Homo sapiens: one gene and its partners. The protein of the gene in region 1 purifies or fractionates together with the protein of each later gene. This does not show direct contact. Each region holds a gene or a part of one and is shown in the gene's direction. Other genes may lie near its edges.

Region 1 (5,956 bases):
AGTCAGGCATGGTGGCGGGTGTCTGTAATCCCAGCTATCAGGAACCTGAGGCAGGAGAATCACTGGAACCCAGAGGTGGAGGTTACAGTGAGCTGAGATCGCACCACTGCACTCCAGCCTGGTGACAGAGCAAGACCCCGTCTAAAAAAAAAAAAGATATGCTGCATTTTGCTTATCCATTCATAGTTGATGGACATTTGTGTTGTTTCTACCTTTCAACTATTGTGAATAGTGCTGCTGTGAATAGTTGTTTACAAGTTTATGTTTGAATACTTGATTTTTCTTCTTTTAGGTATATATTCAGCAGTGGAATGGAGGCGTTTTATAGTAGTAATTCCATGTTTCACTTCTTAAGGAGTTTCTAAACTGTTTCCCACAACAGCTGCACCATTTTACCAGGAGCATATAATGGTTCTAATTTCTCTACATTCTTGCCAACACTTGGTTTTCTCATTTGTTTATAGACACCTTACTACATGTGAACTGGTCTCATCGTGATTTTGATTTACTCTTCTCTAATGGCTAATAAAATTGAGCAACATTGGCCATCTTTATATCTTCTTTAGATAAATGTCTGTTCAAGTCTTTTGCCCATATACAGCTGAATTCTTTTTGTTAATTGGTAAGAGTTCTTTACATATTCTACATACAACTTCCTTCTCAGGCATATGATTTGCAAAATTGTTCTCCCATTCTATACATGTCTTTTTACTTTCTTGATATTGTTCTTTGAACTTTATCTTCTTTGAACTGTATCTTCTTTGAACTTCTTTGAACTTTAATTTTGATGATGCACGATTTGCGTATTTTTCTTTTATTGCTTATCCTGTAGGTATCAAATCTAAGAATCTATTGCCAATTGTGAGCTCATGAAGATTTGCCCTCTTGGTTTTCTTTTAAGGGTTGTATAGTTTTAGCTCTTCTGTTTAGGTCTTCGATGCATCTTGATTTTCATTTTATATGCCGTGTGACGTAAGAGCCCAGCTTTATTCTTACACTTGGCTATCCAGTTGTCCTAGGACCATTTGTTGAAAAGACGATTTTGTCCCCATTCAATGATCATGACACCTTCCTCAAAATTCAGTGGACCAGAGACATGTGGATGTATTCTGGACTGTAAATTCTATTCTGTTGAACTATACTTCTATCTTTATGCCAGTATCACATTGTCCTGATTATTAGAGCTTTGTGGTAAGTTTTGAAATTGGGAAGTATGAGTCCTGCAACTTGATTCTTTTTCAACATTGTTCTGGCTACTCTGCATCCCTTACAATTCCAAATCAATTTTAAAATCAACTTGTCAATTTCTACAAAGAATCTAGCTAGGATTCTGATAATACATTAAATCTGCAGATCCATTTGAGAAGTATTGCCATTTTGACCTTTTTAAGTTTTCTAATCTGTGAACACGGGGTGGTGATTCCTTTTATTTAGATACTCTTTCATTTATTTCAACAGTGTTTTGTATTTTTCAGAGTCTGGGTTTTGCACTTTTGTTAATGTTATTCCTGATAAGTGTATCACTAATATTTTGATGTTATGGTAAATACAATTTTTTAATTCCACTTTTGGATTGTATATTGTAACGTACAGAAATACAGTTTATTTCTGTATATTGACCTTCTATCTTCAAATATTTCTGAACACATTTGTTAGTTTTAATAGGTAAATAGAAGTGCTGAGAGAGGTATCCTTGTCTCATTCATGATCTTAGGGGGAAAGGTACTAAGTATGGTTAGCTATGGGTTTCATAGATGCCCTGTATCAGGTGGAAGAATTCTCTTCTATTTTTAGTTGCTGAGTGTTTTTATCACAAAAGTCTTTTGGATTTTTGTCAAATGCTTTTACTCATACTGAGACGATTGTGTGTTTTCATTTAATTGACATGGTATATTACACAACCTTGTTTCCCTGGGGTAAACCCCTCTTGGTTATGGTATATAATTATTTTTATATGTTGCTAGATTGATCCAGTTTGCTAGTATTTTGTTAAGGATTTGTGCATTTATATTTACAAGATATGTTAGTCTGTAGTTTCTTTATCCTGTGATATATTTTTCCAGTTTTAATATGATGGTAATACTGGCCTTATAGAATGAATTTGGAAATGTTCCCTCATTTCCTAGTTTTTGAAAGTGTTTGTAGAATGGATATTAATTCTCCTTTAAATATTAGGTAGAATTCATTATTGGAACTATCTGGCCTGGCCTTTTCTTTGTGGGTAGTTTTGATTACTGATTCAATGCCTTTATATGTTATAGATCTATTCAGATTGTCTGTTTCTTTCCAACTCAGTTTCTGTAGTTTGTGTCTTTCAAAGAATTTATCCATTTTACCTGTTATCTAATTTATACAATTGTTCTAATAATAAAATTGTTAAGAGAATATCCTTATGCTAATTTTTATTTTTCTTAAATGTCAATAGTAATTATTTCCCTTCTTTTATTTCTGAGACTAGTAAACTGAGTCATCTCTTATTTCTTCATCAATGTAGCTAAAAGTTTGCCAATTTTGATGATATTTTCTTTTGTGGTAAAATTTGAGCTTTTTTTTTGAGATGGACTTTTGCTCTTGCCGCTCAGGCTGGAGTGCAATGGCACGATGTTGGCTCACTGCAACCTCCACCTCCTGGGGTCAAGCTATTCTCCTGCCTCAGCCTCCAGAGTAGTTGGGACTACAGGCATGCAATACTATGCCCGGCTAATTTTTGTATTTTTAGTAAAGACAAGGTTTTTACTGTTGGTCAAGCTGGTCTCGAATTCCTGACCTCAGGTGATCCACCTGCCTCGGCCTCCCAAAGTGCTGGGATTATAGGCGTGAGCCACCGCGCCCAGCCTTGAGCTTTATTTTTTATTTTTAACTTTTGTGGATACACAGTTGGTGTATGCATTTATGGGGTACACGAGATGGTTTTGATACAGGCATGAAATGTGAAATAAGAGCATTATGGAGAATGGGGAATCCATCCCCTCAAGCATTTATCCATTGAATTGCAGACATTCCAATTGCACTCTAAATGATTTTAAAATGTACAGTTATTATTGACTGTAGTCACTCTGTTGTGCTATCAAACCATAGGTCTTATTCATTCTTTCTAACTATTTTTTGTAACCTTTTATTATCCTTACCTCCCCCGCCCCCACTACCCTTCCCAGAGTCTGGTCACCATCCTTCTACTCTCTATGTCCATGAGTTTTGAGTTTTGATAATTTTTTTTTTTTTTTGAGACAGAGTCTCAAAAAAGTTGCGTGATCTAGGCTCACTGAAACCTCTGCCTCCCGGGTTTAAGCAATTCTCCTTTCTCACCCTCCTGAGTAGCTGGGATTACAAGTGTCCACCACCATGCCCAGCTAACTTTTGCATTTTTAGTAGGGACGGGGTTTTGCCATGTTGGTCAGGCTGGTCTAACTCCTCACCTCAGGTGATCCACCCGCCTCAGCCTCCCAAAGTGCTAGGATTACAGGCGTGAGCCACCGCGCCCGGCTGATGATATTTTCAAGGAACCAATTTTTGGTTTTCTTTATTGCTTTTAAATCTGTATTTCATTAGGTTACACTTTAGTTTTTATTATTTTCCCCCTTTCTGCTGGCTTTAGTTTTACTTTGCTCTTCATTTTTCAGTGTGTTATGGTATACATTTAGGTTATTGATTTGAGATTATCTGACATTCACAACTATAAATTTCCCTCTGAACATTGCTTTGGCTACATCCCATACGCTTTGGCATATCATGTCTTCATTTTTCTTCATCTCAAAACAATTTCTAATTGTCCTTTTGCTTTCTACTTCAGCTCATTGGTTACTTAAAAGTGTATTGTTTAACTTCCACATATTTGTGAGTTTTCCAATTCTCTTTTCTCTCTCTCTCTTTTTTTTTTTCTTTCGAGAGACATTTTCATTCTGTCACTCAGGCTGGAGTACAGTGGCACAATCTCAGCTCACTGCAACTTGCGCCTCCCTGGTTCAAGCGATTCTCATGACTGGGTCCCAAGTAGCTGGGACTACAGGCACATGCCACCATGCCCGGCTAATTTTTGTATCAGTAGAGATGGGGTTCCGCCATGTTGGTCAGGCTGGTCTCAAACTCCTGACCTCAAGCAATCTGCCTGCCTCAGCCTCCCTAAGTGCAATTCTCTTGCTTTTATTGATTTCTAGTTTCATTCCATGGTAGTTGAAGGACATTTGCCGTATTGTTTCTATCCTGACTACTATTTCATGGAAAAACATGATTCATTAAAGCAGCAGGCTATCCAAAGAGACTCTAGTCCAGTAGATAAAGGCTAAGAAGTCAGGGAATTTAATTCTGTTCCTTTGGTCACTCTGAAGATGCAGAAGGGACCACTGATCTCACTGCTATAGTGGAGGCCCCTATGTGTGGATCTGCTCTTGCTCAGCCATTGGCATGGAAGAGGGGCAAAGGTCATACAGGAAGAGGGGCAAAGGTCATACAGGAAATGGATCCTGGTTGAGAACCCTGAAGTCTATAGGTAGAGAAAATTGTAATTGTTGTAGGTAAATTTCACATTTTTCACTATGATTTATTTTTTCTTTTTCTATTTAATTTTCCTATAGCACTCTTTCCATTTCTTACCCCAGTTTTTGAAGCCCTAAATATCGGTTTGTTTCCAAAAGATGTTACCCATTTTTTAAAAAATTCCATTGAAAGGATGAAAGAAAGTCGCCTCAAAGATAAACAAAAGGTAAAATCTGGTGGTGGTGACATGAGAATGTTCACTTTTTTATTATATTTTTGGGCTGTTTACATACGATTTGTGCACTTATCTGTGTTTTTTAAAGGCAGCTAGAGAACTTTAGACCAAGAGGGTTTTTACATTTTGCTGGGAATAAAGAAGGTGAAGCTTGGGGAAGAAAGAGAATGAGTGAAACAGCATTTGGAATTTAATAATAGGCATGACTTTAGTATATTATGGCATAAATAATGTAGAGATAGAAGCTTTACCGCTTCTCTTCCTTTCAGTAAATTGTCAATAAATTTGACTGTATAAAGTTGCCAATAAATCTGACTGGATAAAAATGACTGATAAAATTATTTTATGGGTATTACAATTTCCCTAGTTCTTATATTAGTAAGGAATCATTTCAAGTCCAAGCCTGTTATTTTTACACCTTCTTCAGCAGGAGTCCCTACCAGGCTACCTGCAGAAGTAAGTGTATGTTAAATTTCAGTCCTGTCATAGCCTGGACTGGGCAGGGGTCTTCTCTGGGCATTGTGGGTGCAAGCTGACTGATCCAACTTTGCCTTTATGAGCCCTGGAGACCAGCCCGATGATGATGCCTCAAAGTCAGGAATGCAGGACTGGGTCCCCTAGGTGACACTGAACGTTGTATAGAGTTCTAGGAGTGGGGAGTATTTGAAGATGCATTCAAATCAGCTCCCCTGGGATTATCCAGAGATTAATCTATTTGTCCATTGGTTAAGAATAAAAGCAGCAGAACAAATAGGATTGAAATTCAGGACTTCTTCCTGTTCAAGAAATTATGACTAGAGAATGAGCTGACAACTCTTTGGCCAGGAAGTTGTGTCCAAAGGCCAGAGAAGCTGAGGATCAGGGAGAGCAAAGACTAAAAAGCAGATAGACATGACAAAAGGATTTCTCTCAAGGAAACATCCTGCTCTCCAAGGTTTTAGATGCATGATTTTATTCTAAACATTGGTGACTCAGGCAACACCCATTACACTTCTGAACTTAAAGAGAGCATATTCTCAGGAGGGGTGCTTAGGACTGGACTCCTGATTCACTTCTGACTTCACAAGTGACTTTCTGTCATTAAAATTTCTCTTTTTGCTTCCAGCATCGAGTAGATTTCTTTCAACAGATGATCGACTCCCAGAATTCCAAAGAAACAAAGTCCCATAAAGGTAACCAAGAACTGCATCTGGGGGCTACTGATGGGGACACTCAGAGAGAAGGCCCTGTTCTGAAAATGTGCAGAAA
Region 2 (5,956 bases), on another chromosome or scaffold:
GGTAATATATATTGTTACTGAGATTACTATTTATAAAAATTATAACTAAGCCTAAAAGCAAAATACATCAAGTGTAATGATAGAAAATGAAATATTGCTTTTTTCAGATGAAAAGTTCAAATTAGAGTTAGTGTGTATTGTTATTATTAATAGTTATGAAACACGGTTCAGTCTAATTTATTTATTTGTAGAACAGTTTGTCCTCAACTATTATTTTTGCTGACTTATTGCTGTTAATTTGCAGTTACTAAAAATACAGAAATGCATTTAGGACAATGGATATTTAAGAAATTTAAATTTTATCATCAAACGTATCATGGCCAAATTTCTTACATATAGCATAGTATCATTAAACTAGAAATAAGAATACACAATAATATTTAAATGAAGTGATTCATTTCGGATCATTATTGAGTTTCAAGGGAACTTGAGTGTTGTACTTATCAGACTCTACATGTAAGAACATATAGTTAATCTGGTTGTGTGTGTAAAAACATATGGTTAATCTGGTTAAGTCTGGTTAATCATATTAGGTAAGAAAAATGTAAAGAATGTGTAAGACGAAATTTTTGTAAAGTACTCTGCAAAGCACTTTCACATTTCTGCTTATCAACTAAACCTCACAGAGATAGTTTAATAGTTTAGGCTTTAAAATGGATTTTGATTATTCAACAAGTGGCCTTCATAATTTCTTTAAGTGTTTTTCTTTAAGTATATACTTTCTTTAAATATTTTTTAAAATTTCCTTTTCTCTAGTAAAGCCAGACCATCCATGCTACCTCTCTAGTGGCACTCTGAAATAAAAAGAAAATAGTTTTCTCTGTTATAATTGTATTTGTAATAAGCAGATGAATCACATTTCTTAAAATTTGTTTTAGAGAGGGTAAGCTCTGACTAGGACCATGACTTCAATGTGAAATATGTATATATCCTCCGAATCTTTACATATTAAGAATGTATATAGTCAACTGGTTAAACAGGAAAATCTGGAACCAGCCTGGCTGGGTTTTAATCTTAGCACCATCCTACTAAATGTTAAATAATATTATAATCTAATGAATAAATGACAATGCAATTCCAAATAGAGTTCATCTGATGACTTCTAGACTCACAAAATTGCAAGAGAGCTCAGTTGTTGCTCAGTTGTTCCAAATCATGTCGTTTGTTAATTTGTAATTAAGCTCCAAAGGATGTATAGCTACTGACAAAAAAAAAAATGAGAATGTAGTTAATCCAAATCAAAACTTTCCTATTGCAATGCGTATTTTCTGCTTCATTATCCTTTAATATAATATTTTAAGTTAGCAAGTAATTTTAATTACAATGCACAAGCCTTGAGAATTATTTTAAATATAAGAAAATCATAATGTTTGATAAAGAAATCATGTAAGAAATTTCAAGATAATGGTTTAACAAATAATTTTGTTGATAGAAGATAAGACTAAAAGTGAAATTCGAAGTGGAGAGGACACTTAAACTGTAGTACTTGTTATGTGTGATTCCAGTAAAAATAGTAATGAGCACTTATTATTGCCAAGTACTGTTCTGAGGGTACCATATGCAATAAGTTATTTAATCCTTACAATAATCTTGTAAGGCAGATTCAAACTATCATTACACTTATTTTACAGATGAGAAAACTGGGGCACAGATAAAGCAACTTGCCCAAGGTCTCATAGCTGTAAGTCAACCCTACGGTCAAGACCTACAAGTAGCCGAGCTCCAGAGTACATTATGAGGGTCAAAGATTGTCTTATTACAAATAAATTCCAAGTAGAATCAACCTTTAATAAGTCTTTAATGTCTCTTAAATATGTTTATATAGGAGTCTAATCACCAATTCACAAAAATGAAAGTAGGGAAATGATTAACAATAATCATAGGAATCTAACAATCCAAGTGGCTTGAGAATATTCATTCTTCTTGACAGTATAGATTCTTTACAATTTCGTAAGTTCCAATGTATGTTTTAGGAATATGAGGTCATTACTATTCATAATCTGATACAGCTTTATCCTAAGGCCTCTCTTTAAAAACTACACTGCATCATAGCTTTTTTGTGCAGTTGGTCTTTCTACTGTTACTGAACAGTAAGCAACCTACAGATTCACTATCACCAACCAGCCAGTTGATGGATCTTAAGCAAATTATCAAGCTTGTGATAACCTAAATTATAAAATGAGGGTGTTGGAATAGTTACATTCCAAATCTTCTATAACACTCTGTATTATATTTCTGCCTCATTCCTTGTAGGGTTTCTTCAGTGCCCGTGGTCATCGACCCCTTGACAAGAAGAGAGAAGAGGCTCCCAGCCTGAGGCCTGCCCCACCGCCCATCAGTGGAGGTGGCTATCGGGCTCGTCCAGCCAAAGCAGCTGCCACTCAAAAGAAAGTAGAAAGAAAAGCCCCTGATGCTGGAGGCTGTCTTCACGCTGACCCAGACCTGGTGGGTGCACTGATGTTTCTTGCAGTGGTGGCTCTCTCATGCAGAGAAAGCCTGTAGTCATGGCAGTCTGCTAATGTTTCACTGACCCACATTACCATCACTGTTATTTTGTTTGTTTATTTTGGAAATAAAATTCAAAACATAAACATATTGGGCCTTTGGTTTAGGCTTTCTTTCTTGTTTTCTTTGGTCTGGGCCCAAAATTTCAAATTAGGATATGTGGGTGCCACCTTTCCATTTGTATTTTGCCACTGCCTTTGTTTAGTTGGTAAAATTTTCATAGCCCAATTATATTTTTTCTGGGGTAAGTAATATTTTAAATCTCTATGAGAGTATGATGATGACTTTCGAATTTCTGGTCTTACAGAAAACCAAATAATAAATTTTTATGTTGGCTAATCGTATCGCTGAATTTTCCTATGTGCTATTTTAACAAATGTCCATGACCCAAATCCTTCATCTAATGCCTGCTATTTTCTTTGTTTTTAGGGGGTGTTGTGTCCTACAGGATGTCAGTTGCAAGAGGCTTTGCTACAACAGGAAAGGCCAATCAGAAATAGTGTTGATGAGTTAAATAACAATGTGGAAGCTGTTTCCCAGACCTCCTCTTCTTCCTTTCAGTACATGTATTTGCTGAAAGACCTGTGGCAAAAGAGGCAGAAGCAAGTAAAAGGTAGATATCCTTGTGCTTTCCATTCGATTTTCAGCTATAAAATTGGAACCGTTAGACTGCCACGAGAATGCATGGTTGTGAGAAGATTAACATTTCTGGGTTAGTGAATAGCATTCATACGCTTTTGGGCACCTTCCCCTGCAACTTGCCAGATAAGCACTATTCAGCTCTTATTCCCAGTCTGACATCAGCAAGTGTGATTTTCTATGAAAAATTCTACTATGACTCCTTATTTTAAGTATACAAGAAACTTGTGACTCAGAAGATAATATTTACAGAGTGGAAAAAAACCCCTAGCATTTATAGTTTTAACATTTGAGGTTTTGAATGAGAGAGTTATCCATAATATATTCAATTGTGTTGTGGATAATGACACCTAACCTGTGAATCTTGAGGTCAGAATGTTGAGTGCTGTTGACTTGGTGGTCAGGAAACAGCTAGTGCGTGAGCCTGGCACAGGCATCTCAGTGAGTAGCATACCCACAGTTGGAAATTTTTCAAAGAAATCAAAGGAATCATGACATCTTATAAATTTCAAGGTTCTGCTATACTTATGTGAAATGGATAAATAAATCAAGCATATCCACTCTGTAAGATTGAACTTCTCAGATGGAAGACCCCAATACTGCTTTCTCCTCTTTTCCCTCACCAAAGAAATAAACAACCTATTTCATTTATTACTGGACACAATCTTTAGCGTATACCTATGGTAAATTACTAGTATGGTGGTTAGGATTTATGTTAATTTGTATATGTCATGCGCCAAATCATTTCCACTAAATATGACTATATATCATAACTGCTTGGTGATAGCTCAGTGTTTAATAGTTTATTCTCAGAAAATCAAAATTGTATAGTTAAATACATTAGTTTTATGAGGCAAAAATGCTAACTATTTCTACATAATTTCATTTTTCCAGATAATGAAAATGTAGTCAATGAGTACTCCTCAGAACTGGAAAAGCACCAATTATATATAGATGAGACTGTGAATAGCAATATCCCAACTAACCTTCGTGTGCTTCGTTCAATCCTGGAAAACCTGAGAAGCAAAATACAAAAGTTAGAATCTGATGTCTCAGCTCAAATGGAATATTGTCGCACCCCATGCACTGTCAGTTGCAATATTCCTGTGGTGTCTGGCAAAGGTAACTGATTCATAAACATATTTTTAGAGAGTTCCAGAAGAACTCACACACCAAAAATAAGAGAACAACAACAACAACAAAAATGCTAAGTGGATTTTCCCAACAGATCATAATGACATTACAGTACATCATAAAAATATCCTTAGCCAGTTGTGTTTTGGACTGGCCTGGTGCATTTGCTGGTTTTGATGAGCAGGATGGGGCACAGGTAGTCCCAGGGGTGGCTGATGTGTGCATCTGCGTACTGGCTTGAACAGATGGCAGAACCACAGATAGATGTAGAAGTTTCTCCATTTTGTGTGTTCTGGGAGCTCATGGATATTCCAGGACACAAAAGGTGGAGAAGAGCTTTGTTCATCCTCTTAGCAGATAAACGTCCTCAAAACTGGGTTGGACTTACTAAAGTAAAATGAAAATCTAATATTTGTTATATTATTTTCAAAGGTCTATAATAACACACTCCTTAGTAACTTATGTAATGTTATTTTAAAGAATTGGTGACTAAATACAAAGTAATTATGTCATAAACCCCTGAACATAATGTTGTCTTACATTTGCAGAATGTGAGGAAATTATCAGGAAAGGAGGTGAAACATCTGAAATGTATCTCATTCAACCTGACAGTTCTGTCAAACCGTATAGAGTATACTGTGACATGAATACAGAAAATGGAGGTAAGCTTTCGACAGTTGTTGACCTGTTGATCTGTAATTATTTGGATACCGTAAAATGCCAGGAAACAAGGCCAGGTGTGGTGGCTCATACCTGTAATTCCAGCACCTTGGGAGGCCAAAGTGGGCTGATAGCTTGAGCCTAGGAGTTTGAAACTAGCCTGGGCAACATAATGAGACCCTAACTCTACAAAAAAAAAAAAAATACCAAAAAAAAAAAAAAATCAGCTGTGTTGGTAGTATGTGCCTGTAGTCCCAGCTATCCAGGAGGCTGAGATGGGAGATCACCTGAGCCCACAACCTGGAGTCTTGATCATGCTACTGAACTGTAGCCTGGGCAACAGAGGATAGTGAGATCCTGTCTCAAAAAAAAAAATTAATTAAAAAGCCAGGAAACAAGACTTAGCTCTAACATCTAACATAGCTGACAAAGAGTAATTTGATGTGGAATTCAACCTGATATTTAAAAAGTTATAAAATATCTATAATTCACAATTTGGGGTAAGATAAAGCACTTGCAGTTTCCAAAGATTTTACAAGTTTACCTCTCATATTTATTTCCTTATTGTGTCTATTTTAGAGCACCAAATATATACTAAATGGAATGGACAGGGGATTCAGATATTATTTTCAAAGTGACATTATTTGCTGTTGGTTAATATATGCTCTTTTTGTTTCTGTCAACCAAAGGATGGACAGTGATTCAGAACCGTCAAGACGGTAGTGTTGACTTTGGCAGGAAATGGGATCCATATAAACAGGGATTTGGAAATGTTGCAACCAACACAGATGGGAAGAATTACTGTGGCCTACCAGGTAACGAACAGGCATGCAAAATAAAATCATTCTATTTGAAATGGGATTTTTTTTAATTAAAAAACATTCATTGTTGGAAGCCTGTTTTAGGCAGTTAAGAGGAGTTTCCTGACAAAAATGTGGAAGCTAAAGATAAGGGAAGAAAGGCAGTTTTTAGTTTCCCAAAATTTTATTTTTGGTGAGATTTTATTTTGTTTTTCTTT
Region 3 (5,956 bases), on another chromosome or scaffold:
AAGAGTCATGACCTCTAAACCCTGTGAGAAAGAAGCTTGTCCTGGTCACCGTTGCCACATCACATGGCTGGGGCAGGGCCTGCCAGGGTGCTGGGTGTTAGAAAGACTTTTGTCCAAGACACTTTCAGAGAGAGAGAAAAGGGTATCATGACTTGTATATGATTTCTGATTCCTTTTATTTTTTGAGATGTAAGATCTACTGAAATGATTTTTACTCATTCATTCAACAAATATATTCTGTGTACCTGCCATGTGCCATAATCATGTGTACTCAACTCCAGCAGAGTGAATAATTTGCATAAAAGTTCCCGAGGCAACTTCATAGGATTATCTTATAAATACAATGGAGTTATTAGAATAGCACTTAGGGAAAAATCTAGTTTAATCAATGTTTTAGGCTATTATTTTACAACTATTACCTGCATACAAACAGTACCAGTGGCTGGGCGCGGTGGCTCACGCCCGTAATTTCAGCACTTTGGAGGCCGAGGTGGGAGGATCACCTGAGGTCAGTAGTTCAAAACCAGGATGGCCAACATGGTGAAACCCTGCCTCTACTAAAAATACAAAAATTAGCTGGGTGTGGTGGCACATGCCTGTATTCCCAGCTACTTACAAGGCTGAGGCAGGAGAATCACTTGAACCCGGGAGGGGGAGGTTGCAGTGAGCCAAGATCATGCTATTGCACTCCAGCCTGGGCGACAAGAGCGAGACTCCATCTCAAAAAACAAAAAACAAAAACAAAAAACCAGCACCAGCATCTCTTGCTTGTTTAAAATGCAGATTCCTAGGCTCTATTCTAACCTACTCAATCTGAATATATGTGAAAGAAGCCACAAAATCTGCCTTTTAAAATAAGATCCTGTCCAAGGCCATACCACGCTGAACGCGTCTGATCTCGTCTGATCTCGGAAAATAAGATCCCTGTTTGAAATCAGTACTACATACCATTCATTCAAATAAAGTTGAGATAGATTAAATGGTTAAAAATAAAACTTGTATTATTGAAAAACTAGGGGGCAGGTTAACTAGCAGAACTGTAGAGGAAATAGAAATCTCTTAAATGATGATCTAAATCACGAAACAAACAGATATTCTAAAATACAGAAAATGTAATTCATAGCCCATAGAAAATATTTAAATAAAAAAATTAGAAAGGACTGGAATGAATGAATATGCGCCAGCTCTGACACATGATTACTATTTACACTCTATAAAAGAATAACTCAAGGCCGGGCGTGGTGGCTCACATCTGTAATCCCAGCACTTTGGGAGGTCAAGGCAGGTGGATCACGAGGTCAGGAGATCAAGACCATCCTGGCTAAGATGGTGAAACCCCATCTCTACTAAACATACAAAAAAAAAAAAATTAGCCAGGCATGGTGGCACACGCCTGTAGTCCCAGCTACTCAGGAGGCTGAGGCAAGAGAATCGCTTTAACCCGGGAGGTGGAGGTTGCAGTGAGCTGAGATGGTACCACTGCACTCCAGCCTGGGTGACTCCGCTCGAAAAAATAAATAAATAAAAGAATAACCCAAATTGGAAAAAATGTAGAATCATAGAAGAAAAATGATATGAACAGAGTTACCAGTAAGAGGGAATTCATAATTAATAAAAAATACTTGTGAGATGTTCCCCTTACTAATCAGACCTGAGCGATTTGTTAGTACTCACATTTTCTATAGTAATAACAGCTAATAGAATGATAGCCTGCCCTGCTGGTGATTCAAGAGTGAAGCTGGTCCTCACGGTCAGCGCCATTCTGAATTGGTATTATAAGTCTTCTGGAAGCAGAATGGCAACGGCAGCCCGGGTCACAGGGGGAAACGTGCTCCTCATCTGGGGGATTCCACCCTCAGCTGCCTACCCAAGGACACAAGTGGTCACAAGGAAAAACACTGAGGACAAAGATATTCATGAAAATACAGTCTTCACAGGAAACAGTTAGAAATAAACTTAAATGCTAAACATTGGGGGAAATTATTCAATACACGATAGAACACCCACATTATGAGAAAACATTATGCTGTCTACAAAATCAGTAAAGGCTCTGCAGAAGTTAGAAAATGTATCCAGTTTTAGAGGAATAAGCAGTCCACAAAATATGATGTATCCCAGGGGTCCCCACCACCTGGCCACGGACTGGTACCGGTTGATGGCCTGTTAGGAACTAGACCTCAGACCAGGAGGTGAGCAGAGGGCCAGTGAGCATGACTGCCTGAGCTCCACCTCCTGTCAGATCAGCGGCGGCATTAGATTCTCATAGGAGTGTGAACCCTAGTGTGAACTGTGCATGCGAGGGATCTAGGTTGCACTCCCTATGAGAATCCAATGCCTGATGATCAGAGGTGGAACGGTTTCATCCCAAAACCATTCCCCATCTGTCTGTGGAAAAATTACATTCCCTGAAACTGGTCCTTGGTGGCAAAAAAGTTGGGGACCACTAAACTATCCCACATTGCAAACCAAAGAAATATGTAATCATGTGGGAAGCAATGTGCTGAAGCGGAGGAACATGGTTTCTTATGAAAATTTTAGGATAGCTTAATAACTATATTTTCTATCCAATAAAACAGAACTTAAAAGAAATGAATATAGAGCAAAAATAGAAAGTATCTAGAACAAACGACTTCAAATATAGATGACTGTGAGGGGTGTGATCGGGAGAGTGACACAGGCAGGCAGAGGAGAAAGAGGGCAGGCGCCAGTCTCAGGACTTAGAGGGCTGGTGCTCACTGTCCCAAAACAGGGGTCCTTGGCTCTCACCATCTCTCATAGGAAGTGAGGGGACAGGATGGAAAGCGGACCCCTTTGACGACCCTTCCAGCCATGGAGACTTTTTGAGGTCCTGAAGTCCCACTTGCTGGGTTTGGGTGAGTTTTCTGCTGAAGCCAGTCTGGCCTCTTTACTTTCAGGAAAACAGGGCCGATGCTGTGACCCTTGATGGTGGTTTCATATACGAGGCAGGCCTGGCCCCCTACAAACTGCGACCTGTAGCGGCGGAAGTCTACGGGACCGAAAGACGTGAGTTCTGCCTGGGGACCCAGAGGCCACGGTGGCCTCAGCCTGTGCCCTGAGCTGTGTGGATTAAGACTGGGGGAACATGTGGAGGTGGAGTCTGGGTCACATCACACATGTAGGGAATGGAGTCGCTGGGCTCTGGGCCAGATGAAGGCCGTTCCTCCTGACGCTGACCCACGAGAGGAGGACACACGTGAGCTGTGAGGAAACTGCAGCACAGCATTCCCCCTTCCCACCGGAGACTTTTCAGGATGGGTTGTTTTTGTCCCTCTTGTCCAGGCTAAGAACTTTCAATTCTGTCTGCCCCTTTGCAGAGCCACGAACTCACTATTATGCCGTGGCTGTGGTGAAGAAGGGCGGCAGCTTTCAGCTGAACGAACTGCAAGGTCTGAAGTCCTGCCACACAGGCCTTCGCAGGACCGCTGGATGGAATGTCCCTATAGGGACACTTCGTCCATTCTTGAATTGGACGGGTCCACCTGAGCCCATTGAGGCAGGTAAGATGGCTGGGGGATAGTGAGTGGCCTCAGGCAGGGGGCTCTATTCCAGTTGTAAGCACAGGCCACACAGATCATGCAGGTGAAAGTGTGGGATGAATCAAGGTGGGGGTGAGGCTGGCCAGCTTGTAACATCCTGCTGGCAGGATCCGTTACCCTAGCAGCCCTTGGGAGGCACAGCTGAGTCTGCTCTCGGCAGAGGTGCATGTCTCGAGCTCCCAGCCCCATGACAGAGTCTCTCCTGCAGGGGTGGAGGAAGGGGCCTTGCCCACGGAGACCTCAGGATGGGAGGTGTAACCTGCTGTGACCAGGGCTGGCTCACACTCTGTGGTCCACTTCTCTGTGTTTAACAGCTGTGGCCAGGTTCTTCTCAGCCAGCTGTGTTCCCGGTGCAGATAAAGGACAGTTCCCCAACCTGTGTCGCCTGTGTGCGGGGACAGGGGAAAACAAATGTGCCTTCTCCTCCCAGGAACCGTACTTCAGCTACTCTGGTGCCTTCAAGTGAGTGACCCTGTCCCCTTCTCGTCAGTGGCCAAGTGTCCCTTGGCCTCAGGCCGGGAGGCCTTTTCTCTGGCCCCACATAGAGCCCAGCCTGCTCTTGGGGACGAGAGGAGGTCTGTTCTCCTACTGCTGTGTGTCCAAAGAGAGTGCAGGCCTGCCCAGTGTGTGTTCCCCTCCAGCCTTCCGGGCCCAACTGTGCCCCCAACTTCTCACCAGCCCCACGGGCAGTCACTGTGGCTGTGGGCCCTCCTGTTACCTCAGAGAGCCCTGAATCCAACTTGGCTGCCCTGTTGTCCTGGGTTCCTCATACTAATTTCTGCCGCCTGCCTAACCACAGCAGGACTGAAGGCATCTTGTCATGAGATGTCCAGTCCTGGCTCCTGGTTGGGCAGGACCGCTGCAGTGTCCAGGCTGATGTCCTTCTGCCCACCTGGGCCTCTCCCCGTGGCTGAAGGACAGTGAGCAATGCCTGATTCGCCCCCATCCTCTCTGCCCCCACGCGGAGGCTGAGCTCCCCCTTTTCCCATTCTGTCTGCTGGCACTAGCGTATTTTTGCAGAGGGAGGCCTCCACACTTCCCCACTGGCCAGGGCACACCTGCACACTCAGTCCTGAGGAAAACAGCCACATGAACAGTGATGCTAAGGCTTTACCCTCTTGGGTAGAGGCTTCAAAACTCTCCTTTATATAGAAAAAAGTTTTGTCCTCTTAGCCCTCAAAGCAGAAGATGGGGGCCTCTGGCTAGCACCTGAGTCATTCTTCAGTATCTACCTGGAGGGGGCCCCTACCTTCCCAGCTGGGATGCCCCAAAGCTTCAGAGCCCTGCCCTGCAGGGAGTAGAAACCCATAGATGCTGAGTGCCAGGGCTACTGTTCCACAGGGAGGGGCTGGGGAGGGCTGCCTGTGCTTACCCCTGATGGTTTCTCTTTTCACAGGTGTCTGAGAGACGGGGCTGGAGACGTGGCTTTTATCAGAGAGAGCACAGTGTTTGGTAAGAGCAGGGTAATGAGCCGTGGGTACTGACCCCTTTTATCTTACTTGATCATGACTCTGACCTTTGAGCTAATTAGATTCCTAAGTTCATGGCAGACCATTTTCAAGATTCCTACAGGGCACAGCTCTGATTTTATGATCTTTCATATTTTAAATGATCAGTTTTCTTCAAACCTCCTGTGCCTACTGCCTTTCTCTTCCCCTCATAGACACCCATGCCTAGGTGCTTGGCAATGCGTCCTCCAGTCCTCCAAGACACATGTGCTCATGCAGAACAGATTGTGCTGGTTTGTGTTTCCGGTTTCTGGGTTCATAGAGGTTTTAGTGAGCATTAGAAATCCTGCTACTTGGGTTTTCTGCTCAGCATTTTGTTTTAGAGGTTTATCGGTATTGTTGTATACATGTCTAGCTCAGGGGTCCTAACAGTTGAGGAGTGTTCCGTGGAATACATCCACCTTTTACTTCTCTGTCACCATAGTGATGGACAGAGGTTGTGCTCTCTTTTCCTCTACCACATGCAGCCACACGACTGATACCTTCACCTGTGTTCCTTACTTACGTGCTGGACAGCGTCCCTCCTGGACTTATAATAAAGCAGTTGATGAGTATGTAGAGGCTAAACACACTGCACCCAGGACTAGTGGACATAAGCTCACTACATTTCATGCAAGACCAATAGAGACAGGGCTACTATATTCCACCCAGGGCCACTAGAGAAAGTGACAGACACCCACATTCACTCAGGACCATCAGAGACACACCCCACATCCACCCAGGACCACCAGAGAAAGAGACAACACCCACATTCACCTAGGACCATCAGAGACAGACCCCGCATTCATCAGAGGCCACCAGAAACAGACCTCCACATGCACCCAGGGCCACCAGAGACAGACCCCACATGCACCCAGGATCACCAAGCTGCTGTCTGGAATGACACTCTGC
Region 4 (4,795 bases), on another chromosome or scaffold:
GGCGTGACGGCAGGTGTCTGTAGTCCCAGCTACTTGGGAGGCTGAGGCAGCAGAATTGCTTGAACCCAGGAGGCAGAGGTTGCAGTGAGCCGAGATTGTGCCACTGCACTCTAGCCTGGGCAACAAGAGCGAAACTCCATCTCAAAAAAAAAAAAAAGAAAAGAAAGAAAGAAAGAAAACATGAATGAATGGCCGGGCACTATGGCTCACACTTGTAATCCCAGCACTTTCGGAGGCTGAGGAAGGCAGATCACTTGAGGTTGGGAGTTTGAGACCAGGCTGGCCACCTCACCCAATGGGATGGCTCCGGGAGGTTCCAGTGAGCCGAGATCACGCCACTGCATTCCAGCCTGGGTGGCAGAGCAAGACTCCATCTCAAAAGAAAGAAAGAAGGAAAGAAAATGAATGAATACAATAGTGACAAATGGGACAAAGGGGGTCGTGGGGCCCAGGCGGAGGGAGCGGCATCCGCGGCGTTTTGAGGTGGTGGGTGTGGTGGGTGTGGTGGGAGGGCGGCCCGGGCGGCCACCGTGACCTGGAAGCAGCGTCTCACCGCCGCCTGCCTTCTGCCCCAGCTGAGCAGCCCAGCCAACCTCAGTGCCTCCGTCGCCACAGTCCAGCTGCCACAGCAGGACCAGCCAGTGCCCCACGGCACCCAGTGCCTGGCCATGGGCTGGGGCCGCGTGGGTGCCCACGACCCCCCAGCCCAGGTCCTGCAGGAGCTCAATGTCACCGTGGTCACCTTCTTCTGCCGGCCACATAACATTTGCACTTTCGTCCCTCGCCGCAAGGCCGGCATCTGCTTCGTAAGTAACCGTGCCCCCACCCCGGGCACCGGGCTGCCATGAGGGGAGGAGGGCGGCGGCCAGGGTTCCACGCCACCTCTTAGCTGTGTGGCTTCATGCTGTGCCTCAGTCTCCCCACCTGGAAGGTGGGCACACCCAACACCCAACGGGCAGGCTCAGCGGGGTGGGGGCGCTCACATTGCACCTGGCTGCTTGGGTGGGTCTGGGGGTTCCCTGCCCCCCACTCCCCTCTAGGACCACAGGAAGGTGTGGGAGACCCATCCGCCCTCACCGGCGGCCCCTTCCAGAATCCAGGACTCCAGGTATCCAGCGGGAGGCCCATAAATGCCCAGTTCCTACGAAAGACCTCAGCCCCTCCCTGCTCACACTTTTTGTTTGTTTTTGAGACGGAGTGTCGCTCTGTTGTCCAGGCTGGAGTGCAGTGGTGAGATCTCAGCTCACTGCAACCTCCACCTCCCAGGTTCAAGGTATTCTCCTGCCTCAGCCTCCTGAGTAACTAGGTGCACAGGTACCTGCCACCGTGCCTGGCTAATTTTTTTGGTATTTTTAGTAGAGATGAGGTTTCTCCATGTTGACCAGGCTGGTCTTGAACTCCTGGCATCAAGTGATGCCTGGCTGGTGCTCACACATTTTAAAGAAAATTCCAGGCCAGCAGTGGTGGCTCACGCCTGTAATCTCAGCACTTTGGGAGGCCAAAGCGGAAGGATCTTTTGAGTCCAGGAGTTCAAGACCAGCCTGGGCAACATAGCAGGGTGGCATCTCTACAAATAATTTAAATATTAGCTGGGCATGGTGATGTGAGCCTGTAGGCCCAGCTACTCAGGAGGCTAAGGCAGGAGGATCACTTGAGCCTGGGGAGTTCGAGGTTGCAGTGAGCTATGATTGTGCCACTGCACTCCAGCCTGGAGAACAGAGCGAGACCCTGTCTCGAGAGAAAGACAGCCAGCTACTCGGGAGGCCGAGGCAGGAGAATCACTTGAACCCGGGAGGCAGAGGTTGCAGTGAGCCGAGATCACGGCACTGCACTCCAGCCTGGGTGACAGAGCGAGACTCTGTCGCAAACAAAACAAAAACAAAACAAAACAAAACAAAAGGAGAAAGAAAGAAAGAGATAGAGAGAGAAAGAAAGAAGAAAGAAAGAAAAAGAGAGAAAGAAAGAAAGAAAGAAAGAAAAAGAAAGAGAGAGAGAGAGAGAGAGAGAGAGAAAGAAAGAAAGAAAGTTCCATATTGGAAGCATTTTATTCTGAAACAGCTGTGGCTACCCCAGCCCCCTTCCTGGCTGCCTGGGGCCAGCCCGGGTGACTGGCTGTCCCCATCCTCCCGGGAGACTCAGGTGGCCCCTGATGGGTGACTGGCCGTCCCCATCCTCCAGGGAGACTCAGGTGGCCCCTGATGGGTGACTGGCCGTCCCTGTCCTCCAGGGAGACTCAGGTGGCCCCCTGATCTGTGATGGCATCATCCAAGGAATAGACTCCTTCGTGATCTGGGGATGTGCCACCCGCCTTTTCCCTGACTTCTTCACGCGGGTAGCCCTCTACGTGGACTGGATCCGTTCCACGCTGCGCCGTGTGGAGGCCAAGGGCCGCCCCTGAACCGCCCCTCCCACAGCGCTGGCCGGGACCCCGAGCCTGGCTCCAAACCCTCGAGGCGGATCTTTGGACAGAAGCAGCTCTTCCCCGAACACTGTGGCGTCCGGGACGGCCCCACCCGTCCCCCCACACTCCCTCCCACGGGGCTCCGGGAGACAGGCCGGCCCTGCACCTCACCCCACCGTGACCTCAATAAACGTTGAAACTCCCCCTGGCTCCTGTCTGTCCTTCCCATATAGGGAGGGGAGGGGGAACTGCCCACCGTGACCTCAATAAACGTTGAAACTCCCCCTGGCTCCTGTCTGTCCTTCCCATATAGGGAGGGAACCAGGGAGAGGTCCCCTGGGTTCAAGTCCCCGAGCCCCAAACTCAGGATGGGGGGAGTCGGAGCGGGGGATGGGGGCCCAGGTTGCAGGGGGTCTCTCTCCTGGATGCTCGTGGCTGTGGGTTCTAACCCGGCCCCATCAGGGTGGCCCTGGGCAGGTTGTTATTCATCTCCGTGCCTCAGTTTCCTCATCTGGAAAATGGACTCGCCCCAGACGTTTCCTAGAACTGTCCCTGCTGGCTCAGGGACTCCTTGAGGAAGGGGATGGGGATGGGGAAGCAGCCTGGGGGGCTTCCTGGAGGAGGTGGCAGTGCCAGAGCTGCATATCAAGGTGTGAACAGAAACATCCGAAGGGCTGCCAGGCAGGGGGCACAGTCCAGGCAGAGACCTGAGGGCTAGAGGCCAGGGGACGGGGAGGAGGGCAGGCAGGGGAGGGATGTGGGTGCAGGGGAGGGGTAATGGGGTTGGAGCGCTATTTCTCGTAGGAGGGGTAGGCAGGGCAGGAGTTCCCTGGTAGAAGCATGAGCAATGAACTGGGTGGGGGGGTGGCCAGAGGGGAGGTCCGAGGCGGGGAAGAGGTGGGACTCACAGTCCAGCTCAAAGACGGGCAAGTGGCCACTAGAAGGAGGCATTAGCCACAGAGAGGGGACGACCTGCTCCAGGACACGTGTAGAGAAGAAATGAAGCTCATTGCTGGTGTTTTTTTTTTCTTTTTAATATTTTTTTGAGACAGAGTCTCGCTCTGTCACCCAGGCTGGAGTGCAGTGGTGTGATCTCGGCTCACTGCAAGCTCCGCCACCCGGGTTGAAGCGATTCTCCTGCCTCAGCCTCCGGAGTAGCTGGGACTACAGGCACAGACCACCACGCCCAGTTAATTTTTATATTTTTAGTACAGACAGGGTTTCACCACGTTGTCCAGGCTGGTCTCGAACTCCTGACCTCAGGTGGTCCACCCGCCTCAGCTTCCCAAAGTGCTGGGTTTACAGGCGTGAGCCTACTTACTTATTTACAGCTGGCCTACTTATTTATTTTTGAGACAGGGTCTCACTCTGTCGCCCAGTCTGTAGTGCAGTGGTGCAATCTTGGCTTACCGCAGCCTCAACCTCCTGGGCTCAAGTGATCCTCCCACCTCAGCCTCCCGAGTAGCTGGGACTACAGGTGCCACCACACCCAGCTATTTTCTTAGTTTTTGTAGAGACGGGGTCTGGCTGTGTTGCCCAGGTGGGTCCTCAGTGACTCTTTACATATGAACACCTCCAGGTCACTGTAATCTTAGCAATCTCCTGGCCTCCCAGAAGACCCCACGTCCCCCTCGGAGTCTACACCCGCTGTGACCATAACACCCCTACCTTCCCTGCCACAGTTAATGGTGAACCAGCTCTCAAAGCAACACTTTCTTTTTTTTTTTTTTTTTTTTTTTTTTTTTGAGACGGAGTCTCGCTCTGTCGCCCAGGCTGGAGTGCAGTGGCATGATCTCGGCTCACTGCAACCTCCGCCTCCTAGGTTCAAGCAATTCTCCTGCCTCAGTCTCCCGAGTAGCCGGGATTACAGGCAGGTACCACCACGCCAGGCTAATTTTGTATTTTTGGTAGAGACGGGGTTTGTCCATGTTGGTCAGGCTGGAATTCCCAACCTCAGGTGATACACCCGCCTCAGCCTCCCAAAGTGTTGGGATTACAGGCCTGAGCCACCGCGCCCGGCCAGACAACACTTTCTTAGCTAAGAACTTTATGAACGTGAATTTATTTCATCCTCTTGACAGGTTTATGTGATGGATCCTACGATTATAATTTTACAGAGGAGGAAACTGAGTCACGGAGAGTTTATTTCAGGGGCCTGAAGTTACACAGTGGCCAAATGGCCACACCAGAACCAGGATATGAACCCAGCGTCGGCACACTTAATAATGACTGCACGTGAGAATGTAGTATACAGCTGGTGCTCAATAAATGCAGCTGACGCCAAGTCTGATCTCCGTGCTGGAGGCCAAGCCCCTTCCAAAGATACGGCGTCCCCCACCCCTGAAATCCCCCCACCCCCGACTTGAAACAGGGCTGTGTAGACAGTAGGCGCTT
Region 5 (6,507 bases), on another chromosome or scaffold:
CGGTTCACTGGGAACAATTTCCAAATAGCAAACTCTCTGGCTTCTCTCTCTTTGCAGATGACGGCTGCCCGAAGCCCCCCGAGATTGCACATGGCTATGTGGAGCACTCGGTTCGCTACCAGTGTAAGAACTACTACAAACTGCGCACAGAAGGAGATGGTAAGATGTGGACAACTGTCTCCATGCCCTACATACAACCCCCTTCTCTGACATTTCCATGATGGGTGGTGCTGAGGTGATTCGCCAGAAAGTTCGTTGCTCTCCTTGGAGCCAGGAGATTTAGATTCTAATAAGCGTTTTGTCGCCAGTAGCCATGGCCCTTTGGGCAGACTAACTTTTGTCAGCCTCAAGTTTTCTGTTTTGTTAAGGGGAGGCGATGCCATGCAGCCTACCTCATGTAAATCTCAGAGTCACATTTACATCTCCAGCAGATGTGGGAAAAGAAGGAATGCTGATGATGATGTCACCCTCACCTAGTGAGTCTTGCTGTCCTGGCACTGCTCTAAGGGCTTTATACTTATTTGCTCACTTAGTCCTCACAGTATCCCTCTGAACAGAGTTTATTGTTTTCACTTTGCTGATAAGGAAACTGAGGCACAGACAGGTTGAGTATCTTGCCCAAATTCAGGCAGCCTGTAAGAGGCAGAGTCAGGATTTGAACCCTGAGCCCTCCCTGTACTGCTTGGCTGTGACCGCCATGACCACAGTGTGTTCTGCTGGGCTTAACTGGTGTCCAGGCACTTGGCTTCCAGCACAGCACTCTTTCCCTTCCTCCTTCTCATATTCTCTCTCCTTTCTCCCTTCCTGTCTGCCTCCTTTCTTCTTCTTCTTTTTAATTCTTCTCCTTAAATGCCTTCTCACTCTGCTCTGGGTGCAGACTTGACTTTTCCTTTGGCTCATTTCTTGCCTTTTGTTTCAGGAGTATACACCTTAAATGATAAGAAGCAGTGGATAAATAAGGCTGTTGGAGATAAACTTCCTGAATGTGAAGCAGGTGGGTGCTGAGCACTGAGCACTTAAGAGAGCAGGCAGGCGTCCAGCGGGGAACGTCCTAGAGGCACAGCCTTCCAGTGCGGCTTCCTCTGAGCACACAAGAGCCAGGAGGAGGGATGTGGGAGAACCGCAGCTGGCCAGGGAGAGACTTAAGCAGTTAGGTGATGACTCCCTAAGGGTCACCAAGGGTCTTGTTCATTGGGGCCTGAAGGGCACTGGCTGAATCCACTGTCGGCACTGCCCACAGATCAGGAGAGCCTGTGCATACAGAGAGCCTGCTAGAAAGCCCTGGGTCTAAGGAGAAGCAAGCTCCAGGGAGAACAAGTCAAGGAATGACATAAAATCTTAATCCATGGAAGCCTAGCAGGAGGCTGGACATGGGCTGGAACTCCTGCTTCTCGTTATTAGGAGGAGCTGTTGCTCTCTCCTTTCATTCTCAGAACCAGAGGCAAAGACCCAGCCTCTTCTGCTCTTACTGGTGTGGAAATGCCAACCTGCCTCGTATTAACTGCACCATCTACAAAATCTGAGCTCCAGCCAGTGCTGCTCTAGATTCATCTTTCTTTAGAGAGAATGAATTATTGTAGCCCCTAGCCCTTTCAATGAATTTCAGGGAATTGTGGAAATTCCTTTATTGGGATAATTGTTTAAAAATAATACAGTTCGCGAGCTTCTATTCGGGGTGGAAGGAGATTGATGTGCAGAGCAGCTCCCGCTCATCTGACTTTTCACGGTTCACTGGGAACAATTTCCAAATAGCAAACTCTCTGGCTTCTCTCTCTTTGCAGATGACGGCTGCCCGAAGCCCCCCGAGATTGCACATGGCTATGTGGAGCACTCGGTTCGCTACCAGTGTAAGAACTACTACAAACTGCGCACAGAAGGAGATGGTAAGATGTGGACAACTGTCTCCATGCCCTACATACAACCCCCTTCTCTGACATTTCCATGATGGGTGGTGCTGAGGTGATTCGCCAGAAAGTTCGTTGCTCTCCTTGGAGCCAGGAGATTTAGATTCTAATAAGCGTTTTGTCGCCAGTAGCCATGGCCCTTTGGGCAGACTAACTTTTGTCAGCCTCAAGTTTTCTGTTTTGTTAAGGGGAGGCGATGCCATGCAGCCTACCTCATGTAAATCTCAGAGTCACATTTACATCTCCAGCAGATGTGGGAAAAGAAGGAATGCTGATGATGATGTCACCCTCACCTAGTGAGTCTTGCTGTCCTGGCACTGCTCTAAGGGCTTTATACTTATTTGCTCACTTAGTCCTCACAGTATCCCTCTGAACAGAGTTTATTGTTTTCACTTTGCTGATAAGGAAACTGAGGCACAGACAGGTTGAGTATCTTGCCCAAATTCAGGCAGCCTGTAAGAGGCAGAGTCAGGATTTGAACCCTGAGCCCTCCCTGTACTGCTTGGCTGTGACCGCCATGACCACAGTGTGTTCTGCTGGGCTTAACTGGCATCCAGGCACTTGGCTTCCAGCACAGCACTCTTTCCCTTCCTCCTTCTCATATACTCTCTCCTTTTCCCCTTCCTTTTTGTCCCCTTTTCCTCTTCCTTTTAGTTCTTCTCTTTAAATGCCTTCTCACTCTGCACGGGGTCTAGACTTGACTTCTCCTTTGGCTCACTTCTTGCCTTTTGTTTCAGGAGTGTACACCTTAAACAATGAGAAGCAGTGGATAAATAAGGCTGTTGGAGATAAACTTCCTGAATGTGAAGCAGGTGGGTGCTGAGCACTTAAGAGAGCAGGCAGGCGTCCAGCGGGGAACGTCCTAGAGGCACAGCCTTCCAGTGCGGCTTCCTCTGAGCACACAAGAGCCAGGAGGAGGGATGTGGGAGAACCGCAGCTGGCCAGGGAGAGACTTAAGCAGTTAGGTGATGACTCCCTAAGGGTCACCAAGGGTCTTGTTCATTAGGGCCTGAAGGGCACTGGCTGAATCCATTGTCTACATCGCCCACAGATTAGGAGAGCCTGTGCATACAGAGAGCCTGCTAGAGAGCCCTGGGTCTAAGGAGAAGCAAGCTCCAGGGAGAACAAGTCAAGGAATGACATAAAATCTTAATCCATGGAAGCCTAGCAGGAGGCTGGACATGGGCTGGAACTCCTGCTTCTCGTTATTAGGAGGAGCTGTTGCTCTCTCCTTTCATTCTCAGAACAAGAGGCAAAGGCCCAGCCTCTTCTGCTCTTACTGGTGTGGAAATGCCAACCTGCCTCGTATTAACTGCACCATCTACAAAATCTGAGCTCCAGCCAGTGCTGCTCTAGATTCATCTTTCTTTAGAGAGAATGAATTATTGTAGCCCCTAGCCCTTTCAATGAATTTCAGGGAATTGTGGAAATTCCTTTATTGGGATAATTGTTTAAATATAATACAGTTCACCAGCCAGGGCTCAAAAATCTCAGTATTTCCCACTTCCTTTGTTAGAAAAGTGGGAAATAGAGCTTTTTGTAATGTAAACAATTTAAAAAACAGAATTATTTTAAAACTGCAACTATTGGAAATGAGATCAGCAGGTGGTAAGGGCAAAGCATTTAAATCTTTCTACTTTACGCAGCAGTGACAGCCGCCCATGCTTTCACCCCTTTCTCAGATGGAAAGGCTCTTGCACATTTCCACTCACGAGTGTCTTGCTCTCCTTGACAGTATGTGGGAAGCCCAAGAATCCGGCAAACCCAGTGCAGCGGATCCTGGGTGGACACCTGGATGCCAAAGGCAGCTTTCCCTGGCAGGCTAAGATGGTTTCCCACCATAATCTCACCACAGGTGCCACGCTGATCAATGAACAATGGCTGCTGACCACGGCTAAAAATCTCTTCCTGAACCATTCAGAAAATGCAACAGCGAAAGACATTGCCCCTACTTTAACACTCTATGTGGGGAAAAAGCAGCTTGTAGAGATTGAGAAGGTTGTTCTACACCCTAACTACTCCCAGGTAGATATTGGGCTCATCAAACTCAAACAGAAGGTGTCTGTTAATGAGAGAGTGATGCCCATCTGCCTACCTTCAAAGGATTATGCAGAAGTAGGGCGTGTGGGTTATGTTTCTGGCTGGGGGCGAAATGCCAATTTTAAATTTACTGACCATCTGAAGTATGTCATGCTGCCTGTGGCTGACCAAGACCAATGCATAAGGCATTATGAAGGCAGCACAGTCCCCGAAAAGAAGACACCGAAGAGCCCTGTAGGGGTGCAGCCCATACTGAATGAACACACCTTCTGTGCTGGCATGTCTAAGTACCAAGAAGACACCTGCTATGGCGATGCGGGCAGTGCCTTTGCCGTTCACGACCTGGAGGAGGACACCTGGTATGCGACTGGGATCTTAAGCTTTGATAAGAGCTGTGCTGTGGCTGAGTATGGTGTGTATGTGAAGGTGACTTCCATCCAGGACTGGGTTCAGAAGACCATAGCTGAGAACTAATGCAAGGCTGGCCGGAAGCCCTTGCCTGAAAGCAAGATTTCAGCCTGGAAGAGGGCAAAGTGGACGGGAGTGGACAGGAGTGGATGCGATAAGATGTGGTTTGAAGCTGATGGGTGCCAGCCCTGCATTGCTGAGTCAATCAATAAAGAGCTTTCTTTTGACCCATTTCTGTGTTGTGTTCAGTCTTGAGTCTTTTTTATTTGCTCCTTTATGGTCCAGGGTAGTCAGAAGGTATAGAGTCTACTGGGAGTATGGCAGAAAACACCCTAAACCCACTGGAAATCCCGAAGGTGATACAAACTCTTCCACCTTAGGGAATCATGCTCACTGATTGAGTGCCTATTGAATGCTAGGTCCCAGAAAGTTAACTGTTGTCCTTGTTTTACAGACAAGGAAACAGAGACTCAGAGATGGTAAGTGAGTTGCTTAAGGTTACATAGCTATGAAACAGGGAAGCAGAACTTTGAACCCAGGTCTGTTTGATACAAACTCAGAGGTCCTTTCACTGCATGCTGTTGCCTCCTCAAAGTGAATTAGGAGAAAAGGCATGGGCCTGGTTGAGGAAGAGGCTAGCTCAAAATGGGATGGGGAAAAAGTGTTTTAACACAGACAGTACTTCAGAGTTTGGGATCTAACCTACCAGCACTCCAGAAAACAAAAGACAATGATGTAAAGGCAGGATCTCTGGACTTACTGAGTCCAAATCACAGAATGGCCCATAAATTTGCTAAGTAATTTAGGTTTCCTGGCCATCAGTTCCTGGTCTCTTCCATGAAGGACTTGAGCCAGGCGATGGCTAATGTCCCTATCAGCAATAACCTTCTGGTATTCCATAAAGAGTGGGGAGGTAGAGTCCCTGCATCAGTAGAAGCTGCTTTTCCTACTGGGAACAAACCCACCCTGCACCAGGAATCAAATGCAGGCTGTCTGAGCCTCCTCTCCTGATGGCAGGTCATGCTATTAAGGGTCTCCCAGAAGAAAGGTTCTGGAACTCTGAGAAACAGAAGCTCTTCTAACAGAACTTTTTCTTGCTATAAGCTTTCAATACCACCAATCACCAGTGCACCTTCTTCTCATGCCAAAATACGGCCCCTCCTTTGTAGGGTGTAAAACGACACTGATGTCACTCTCTCTCACCAAGGTCTGGCCATCTCTGTGAAGCTCTCCTCACAGGCACCCTGCAGATTCATCAATAAACTTCAACAGGTTAGCGCCAGTAGGCCAATAAGATGCACACTTATATTCTAGAACCTGTGAAAGAAGTAATAGCCAGAAACTGGAAAATAACAGTCAAACTCTTAAAAAAATGCCTCTCAGAACACAGTCACTTACACCTTTTCCTCTGGTAGTTCTCTTCAGCACCAAGTTTCCTGGAAGAACAAGCTACTCCCCAGTTTTCTTAAAGAATTGTCTGATTGTATTAAGTAAGTGGCTTCTGGTAAAATAATGGTAAGAGAAAAGCTCTGGCATTCTCTTGATCACTCATCTTCTCTGCCTTCCTCCCTAGCAACATCTCCTGGCCTCAGCCTGTGGGCTTCAGCAACACCAAACTCCATGTTGCTCTCTGACAAGCCCGGCCGTCTCCAGTTCTTGGGCTTTATTTCCTCGGGGGCCCTCTGCTGAAATTCCCTTCCCCTTGCTGTATTAGCACCTCCTACCCGCCTTCAACATGCAGGCACTGCCTCCTCTAAGGAGCCATCTGTACTTACGTAGCTGTGAGCATAGGATGGGGCATACAGCAGGCACTTAACAAATACTTGTGGAATGGAAAGAAACTAAGATAGGATCAAAAATACAAATCAAGATGTGAGAGAAAGACGATCAAAAGCCCTCACGAGGGGGCTGGGCGTGATGGCTCACACCTGTAATCTCAACACTTTGGGAGGCTAAGGCGGGTGGATCACTTGAGGGTGGGAGTTTGAGATCAGCCAGAGCAACATGGAGAAACCTCGTCTCTACTAAAAATACAAAAAATTAGCCAGGCATGGTGATATATGCCTGTAATCCCAGCTACTCGGGAGGCTGAGGCAGGAGAATTGCTTGAACCTCGGAGGTAGAAGTTGTGGTGAGCTGAGATCATGCCATTGTA

The links.
Region 2: the proteins of CYP3A43 (region 1) and FGB purify together in Homo sapiens (affinity purification with mass spectrometry; one large-scale study listed by BioGRID and IntAct). This does not show direct contact.
Region 3: the proteins of CYP3A43 (region 1) and LTF purify together in Homo sapiens (affinity purification with mass spectrometry; one large-scale study listed by BioGRID and IntAct). This does not show direct contact.
Region 4: the proteins of CYP3A43 (region 1) and PRTN3 purify together in Homo sapiens (affinity purification with mass spectrometry; one large-scale study listed by BioGRID and IntAct). This does not show direct contact.
Region 5: the proteins of CYP3A43 (region 1) and HP purify together in Homo sapiens (affinity purification with mass spectrometry; one large-scale study listed by BioGRID and IntAct). This does not show direct contact.

The regions. Positions count from the first base shown.
Region 1 is NC_000007.14:99,851,020-99,856,975, forward strand, and holds part of CYP3A43 (cytochrome P450 3A43), read left to right. Parts: intron 1-4,571; coding exon 4,572-4,699; intron 4,700-5,813; coding exon 5,814-5,880; intron 5,881-5,956. UniProt on the Homo sapiens protein: Exhibits low testosterone 6-beta-hydroxylase activity.
Region 2 is NC_000004.12:154,563,555-154,569,510, forward strand, and holds part of FGB (fibrinogen beta chain isoform 1 preproprotein), read left to right. Parts: intron 1-2,253; coding exon 2,254-2,445; intron 2,446-2,934; coding exon 2,935-3,118; intron 3,119-4,038; coding exon 4,039-4,266; intron 4,267-4,826; coding exon 4,827-4,940; intron 4,941-5,627; coding exon 5,628-5,753; intron 5,754-5,956. UniProt on the Homo sapiens protein: Cleaved by the protease thrombin to yield monomers which, together with fibrinogen alpha (FGA) and fibrinogen gamma (FGG), polymerize to form an insoluble fibrin matrix. Fibrin has a major function in hemostasis as one of the primary components of blood clots.
Region 3 is NC_000003.12:46,453,358-46,459,313, reverse strand, and holds part of LTF (lactotransferrin isoform 1 preproprotein), read left to right. Parts: intron 1-2,915; coding exon 2,916-3,024; intron 3,025-3,335; coding exon 3,336-3,518; intron 3,519-3,871; coding exon 3,872-4,019; intron 4,020-4,953; coding exon 4,954-5,009; intron 5,010-5,956. UniProt on the Homo sapiens protein: Transferrins are iron binding transport proteins which can bind two Fe(3+) ions in association with the binding of an anion, usually bicarbonate. Lactoferricin binds to the bacterial surface and is crucial for the bactericidal functions.
Region 4 is NC_000019.10:845,572-850,366, forward strand, and holds the end of PRTN3 (myeloblastin precursor), read left to right. Parts: intron 1-575; coding exon 576-806; intron 807-2,178; coding exon of another isoform or gene 2,179-2,199; exon of another isoform or gene 2,200-2,227; coding exon 2,228-2,398; 3' UTR 2,399-2,604; downstream 2,605-4,795. UniProt on the Homo sapiens protein: Serine protease that degrades elastin, fibronectin, laminin, vitronectin, and collagen types I, III, and IV (in vitro).
Region 5 is NC_000016.10:72,056,473-72,062,979, forward strand, and holds the end of HP (haptoglobin isoform 1 preproprotein), read left to right. Parts: intron 1-57; coding exon 58-159; intron 160-919; coding exon 920-994; intron 995-1,781; coding exon 1,782-1,883; intron 1,884-2,641; coding exon 2,642-2,716; intron 2,717-3,639; coding exon 3,640-4,418; 3' UTR 4,419-4,583; downstream 4,584-6,507. UniProt on the Homo sapiens protein: As a result of hemolysis, hemoglobin is found to accumulate in the kidney and is secreted in the urine. Haptoglobin captures, and combines with free plasma hemoglobin to allow hepatic recycling of heme iron and to prevent kidney damage.